Linked DNA regions of Homo sapiens: region 2 is linked to region 1. A link means that fine-mapping ties the variant in region 1 to the expression of a gene that starts in the linked region. Tissue or cell type: monocytes. Region 1 holds a variant in brackets; the other region holds the start of a gene. All regions are shown on one strand. Distances are between the middles of the regions.

Region 1 (2,680 bases):
AGAACACAGCAAAATCTCCTGAGGCCCTGCACTTTCAAAACCTGGAGCTGGAGCAAGTTGTTTGCTTCTCAGCCTCCTGTAAAACCCTCCAAAGAGCTTCCCACTCGGGTTTGCTAGTCCTTAGAGTTTCTTTTCTTTTATTTCCCCCCTGAGACAGGATCTCCCTGTCGCCCAGGCTGGAGTGCAGTGGTGTGATCTCAGCTCACTGCAACTTCTGCCTCCTCGGTTCAAGTGATCCTCCCACCTCAGCCTATGGAGTAGCTGGGATTATAGGCGCACACCACCACCATGCCCAGCTAATTTTTTTTTTTTTCGAGATGGAGTCTCGCTCTGTTGCCCAGGCTGCAGTGCAATGGCATGATCTCAGCTCACTGCAACCTCTGCCTCCCAGGTTCAAGTGATTCTTCCACCTCAGCCTCCTGAGTTGCTGGGTTTATAGGTACCCACCATCATGCCCGACTAATTTTTGTATTTTTAGTAGAGACAGGGTTTCACCATGTTAGTCAGGCTGGTCTTGAACTCCTGACCTTAGGTGATCCCCCCGCCTCGGCCTCCCAGAGTGCTGGGATTACAGGCGTGAGCCGCCGTGCCCGGCCAATTTTTGTATTTTTAGTAGAGATGAGGTTTCGCTATATTGCCTAGGCTGGTCTTGAACGCCTGAGCTCAAGCATTCCACCCACCTTGGTGTCCCAAAGTGCCAGGATTATAAGCACGAGCCACCACGCCTGGCTCTGCTCTTTTTTTTTTTTTGAGACCGGGTCTTGCTCTGTCACCCAGGTAGTAGCATGATCATAGCTCACTGTAGCCTCAACCTCCTGGGCTTATGCTATCCTCCCACCTCAGGTATATTCCAAGTAGCTGGGACTACAGGTGCGACTCCATACTCAGCTACTTTTTTTTTTTTTTTTTTTTTAATTTGTAGAGACAGCCTCTTGCCATGTTGCCCCAGGCTGGTCTTGAACTCCTGGCCTCAAGGGATCCTCTGGCCTTGGCCTCCCAAAGTGCTGGGATTACAGGTGTGAGCCCCTTGCCTAGCCCTTTAGAATTTCTTCATGTGAATTATAAAAAGGCACTGCCTGAGAGGAAACAGTCCTGTTAAGGCACAGGACCTGTCTCCTCTGACCCCTCGGTTGGGGGTTTTGTGCACTGCACAGCCTGCACAAATCTACATAGGGGCCCTATTCTCACTGCAGGTAAAATAAAATCTCTTTATTGTGAGCCACAGGGCCCTTTCAGATCACCAAGCCTATATCCTGTTCTCCACTGCTACTCCTCAACCAGGAGTGACACAGGTAATGTTGCCCTCCCTCTGTCTGCTGGGCACAGATCCCTCAGGATGGGCATGCAGTCCACAGTCTGGGATCCTGCCCCTTTGTGCCCAGCCCCTTGCATCACCCTCATTACCTGTGTTGTAGCTGACCACCTGGAAACGTTTACTTGCATTACCATATCCACTCTCCACCAGCAGCAGTAG[A/G]GTATACTCACCCGCGATGTATTCAGACCAAATTATGGAGCAGGTGGTAACTGAGAGGGAAAGGGGCAGTCCAGAGCCGCCCCAGGGCTCAATAGCCTTGGTCCTGTGCCAGCTGTACCCCTCCCCATAACTCACCCCTCCCTAAGACACTGCCCATTCTTTCCCATGACCCCTGCCACCCTCCCCTGCTCTTCTGCATCCTCAGTTCCCCCAGCCTCCCACCGCAGACCCATCGGGGTAATGAGTACCTCCTATCTGCTCGCACACAGACCACTGCCTGGGCAGCATCTCAAAGGACACCTGGCCATCTGCAGAGCAAGGTCGGGTTCATGTTCAGGCCCTCTCCCTCCTGTCTGGCAGCCCATCAAGCCAACTCCGATTGCCCTCCTTATGCCCACCAGCCCCTCCGTCCTTGGGATCTCATTCTCTGGCCTTTCGTCACTCACACCTGGCCTATCAGAGCATGTCTGTCTTTGGTCACAGTCATGAGACTGTGGGTCTCATGCCTCAGGTCTGGCCATGTGACCCACGGTGGGCCGATCAGAGTTTACTCTGGGATTTGTGTTAGAATTAATGGGAAAGATGCTGTCTTCATTCTCTTGGCGTGACTCAGACTAGTAGGTGACTTGAGTCTGAAGCTTTAAGGGGCCACCTTTAACCTCCATGGAGGAATAGCTACCTAAAAATGGACCCAAATTATAGGACCAATAATAATAAACTGTTTGTAACACTCACCACATCACTAGCACTAAGACCTTTACAAAAACCAACTTATTTAATCTTTATATCAACCCGGTGACCTAGATGCTAGTACTACCATTAGCCACATTTTGTAGGTGAAGAAAACGAGATCAGAGAGGTCAAGTTACATATCGAGAGGCACACAGCGAAGGTGTGATGGAGCAGTCTCTCTCCAGAATCTGTGCTATAATTAATTACTATGCTGCACTACCTTACCAAGAGATGGAGTCCTGATGACCTACCCTGTGGGCCCCTGGATCCAGCCATACCTGAAGTTGAACCGTAGTCTTTTCATTTATGTAAGTCCACAAATTCTTTGTGCTTAAGTTATTATTATTATTACTATCATTATTATTAAGACAGTCTCACTCTGTTGCCCAGGCTGGAGTGCAGTGGCATGATCTTGGCTTACTGCAACCTCCGCTTCCCAGGTTCGAGCAATTCTCATGCCTCAGCCTCCCAAGT
Region 2 (2,680 bases), 21 kb after region 1:
GCTGGGCCGCACATAACGTGGCTAGAACCTGGAGAACGCAGGAGTCAACACCCACGCGCCGGACAGCTCTCTGGAGCCCACTTTTAAGATTCCACCTCGCTTCTGCGCCTCTCACAGCACTTGCTCCTGGCCACGCCCCGGCTCTTGCTCCTGGCCCCGCCCCTGCACTTGCTCTTGGTCCCGCCCCTGCTCTTGCTCCTGGCCCTGCCCCCGCACGGACTTTTAGCCCCGCCTCTGCTCTTGTTCCTGGCTCCGCCTCTGCACTTGCTCCTGGTCCCGCCCCTGCTCTTGCTCCTGGCCCTGCCCCCGACCCTCGTGGGTATCGCACCTCTGCTATTGCTCCGGGCCCCAGCCCTACTAATGTTTCTGGCCACACCCCTGCTCCTCCGCCTCGTTCCGCCCCGCCGCCTCCACGTCTCTTCCTTTAACTTTATCCTCACCTTGCTCCTTATTCCGCCCCCTCCCTGTATTCCACTCTTGCTCTTCACCTGGTCTTGGTTTCTATTTCTCGCTTTGACAGTCCCCCTCTTAAGTTCCCCCGTACTGCTTCTGCCTGCGATCGCACCCGTGTACTTCCACCCGGCTGTGCCCCAACCTCTTGCCCCACCCTCGCACTTCTCTTGGTATCGCCGCTTTCTCCTCGCTCGGGGTCTGCCCAGGGGCTGGGTACTGTACCTGGTCTCGCCCGTCTCCGGGCCCCGCCCCTGCTCTTGCTCCCGGCCCCGCCCCTGCTCTTGCTCCCGGCCGGGCCCCCGTTTCTCGCCCGGGGCTTGCTCCTCACTCTGCTTCCGCTCCTGACCGCGCCCCTACTCCTCCACTTGGTCTTTATGGACCCGTTCCTTCCCCGGGTTCTCGGCGATTGGTTCTTCCCGCGCGGGCCCGTCGCCCCGTCCCGCCCTCTGGTAACGCCCCTCCTCCTCGCCCTGCCCCTTCTCGATGAAAACTGTCTCTTCGCCTCGGGATCTTTCCTCGCCCTTCGTTGTTTCCTCGCCCCACACCTTCTCCTTCCACGCCGGCACCAGCTTCTTAGCCGGCACCTTCTTGAGTCTCACCTTCCCCTCGTACCGCGACACCTTCTTGCCCCACTTCTTACTCTTCCTTCCCATGCCATTAACACCTGCCTGCTCTATACCCCGACTCTCCTGCCCCGCCCCGCCCTTCGCCCTTCACGTTCGGCTCCCCCTTTCCCTCCTCTGCCAGCTCCCACGACTCTTCCCCTCTTTCCCTCCTCTCCCAGCTCCCACGACTCTTCCCCTCTTTCCCCTGCCTCTCCCCTTCTCGCCTTCCCCTTCCCCTCCCCTTCCTAGTTCCTCCCCGTCCCCGGCATCCCCCCGCCCCTGGATGGCACAGCTTTTTCCCCGGCCCCGTGGTACCAGTCACTTGGTTAAAACCGGTCAACTGTCACTCGGCCGCACCAGTCCCGCCCCTCTTGCCCGGTCTCAAAATGGCCGCCCACACTTCCACAGCCGACTTCCGCCTTTGCAGAGGCACGCCCTCCTCTCACGCGGTCTCCAAGGTGACGCGCAACCCCTAAGGCACCGAGGGCTGGAGGCTGTCTCAGCACTGAGGGCGCGGGGCCTGGTCGGCAGAGGGTGCTGGAGACTACGTTTGTGCCAGGAAGGCCTTCAAGGAGTTTCTATTGGTTGTTCTGGCAGCAAGCACGGTCCCTACTTGTGCTTCCTACCCAAATATATATATATATATATTTTTTTGAGACGGAGTTTCGCTCTTTCTCCCAGGCTGGAGTGTGAAGTGGCGCGATTTCGGCTCACTGAAACCTCCGCGCCCCTGCCCCGGATTCAAGCGATTCTCCTGCCTCAGCCTCCCGAGTAGCTGGGATTATAGGCTCCCGCCACCACGCCTGGCTAATTTATTTTTTGTATTTTTAGTAGAAACGGGGTTTCATCATGTTGGCCAGGCTGGTCTCGACTCCTGACCTCAGGCGAACCACCCGCCTCGGCCTCCCAAAGTGCTGGGATTACAGGCGTGAGCCACTGCGCCCGGCCCTACCCCAAAATTCTACTCCTTAAAAAAGTGTGGTTTCCTGGAGACCTTGTGAGAATGAATAGGCTGCTTAGCACCGTCCTCTACAAAACAGGACAAGGACAGCCATCCTATACTGTTGTGGGAAGTGTGCCCGGCTCAAGTAAAATATTCATTAAGTTAATTTTCATTTGCATTCTGATGCCTTACAGGTAAGGATTCAGGCCATGACTTTTTGATGAACTCCAGACCAGACGTTTAACCCAGTGGTTTTCAAATTTGAGCATGCATTAGACTCACCTAAAAGGCTGGGTAAGCCAGGTTGGTGGGTACCACACCCTGAGTTTTTGTTTTTGTTTTAAAGATGGAGTCTCTGGCTGGGCATAGTGGCTCATGCCTATAATCCCAGCACTTTGGAAAGCTGAGGCAGGCGGATCACTTGAGGTCTGAAGTTGGATACCAGCCTGGCCAACATGATAAAACCTTGTCTCTACCAAAAAATACAACAATTAGCCGGGCATGGCGGCGGGCACCTGTAATCCCAGCTACTCGGGAGGCTGAGGCAGGAGTTGCTTGAACCCAGGAGGCGGAGGTTGCAGTGAGCCGAGATCCCTCCACTGCACTCCAGCCTGGGCGACAGAATGAGACCCTGTCTCAAAAAAAAAAAAAAAAATTAAGCCAGATGTGGTGCTGCACA

The links. PIP is the estimated chance that this variant, and not a neighbour inherited with it, causes the effect.
Region 2: it holds the start of CATSPERG, and the variant in region 1 is fine-mapped to the expression of CATSPERG in monocytes (TOPMed, PIP 0.99).

Annotation. Positions count from the first base shown.
Region 1 is chr19:38,355,586-38,358,265 of GRCh38, reverse strand. CATSPERG (catsper channel auxiliary subunit gamma) reads right to left here. Exons shown (of 29, transcript NM_021185.5): 10 at 1,723-1,782; 11 at 1,405-1,524. Among named protein-coding and RNA genes, the nearest start is that of PSMD8, 18 kb to the left of the region's middle. The variant A/G (reference allele first, on the strand shown) is at 1,475.
Region 2 is chr19:38,334,569-38,337,248 of GRCh38, reverse strand. CATSPERG (catsper channel auxiliary subunit gamma) reads right to left here and starts at 1,419. Exons shown (of 29, transcript NM_021185.5): 1 at 1,374-1,419; 2 at 1-28. The coding sequence starts at 14. RefSeq lists silencers at 632-801, 1,172-1,251 and enhancers at 1,372-1,581, 1,386-1,680.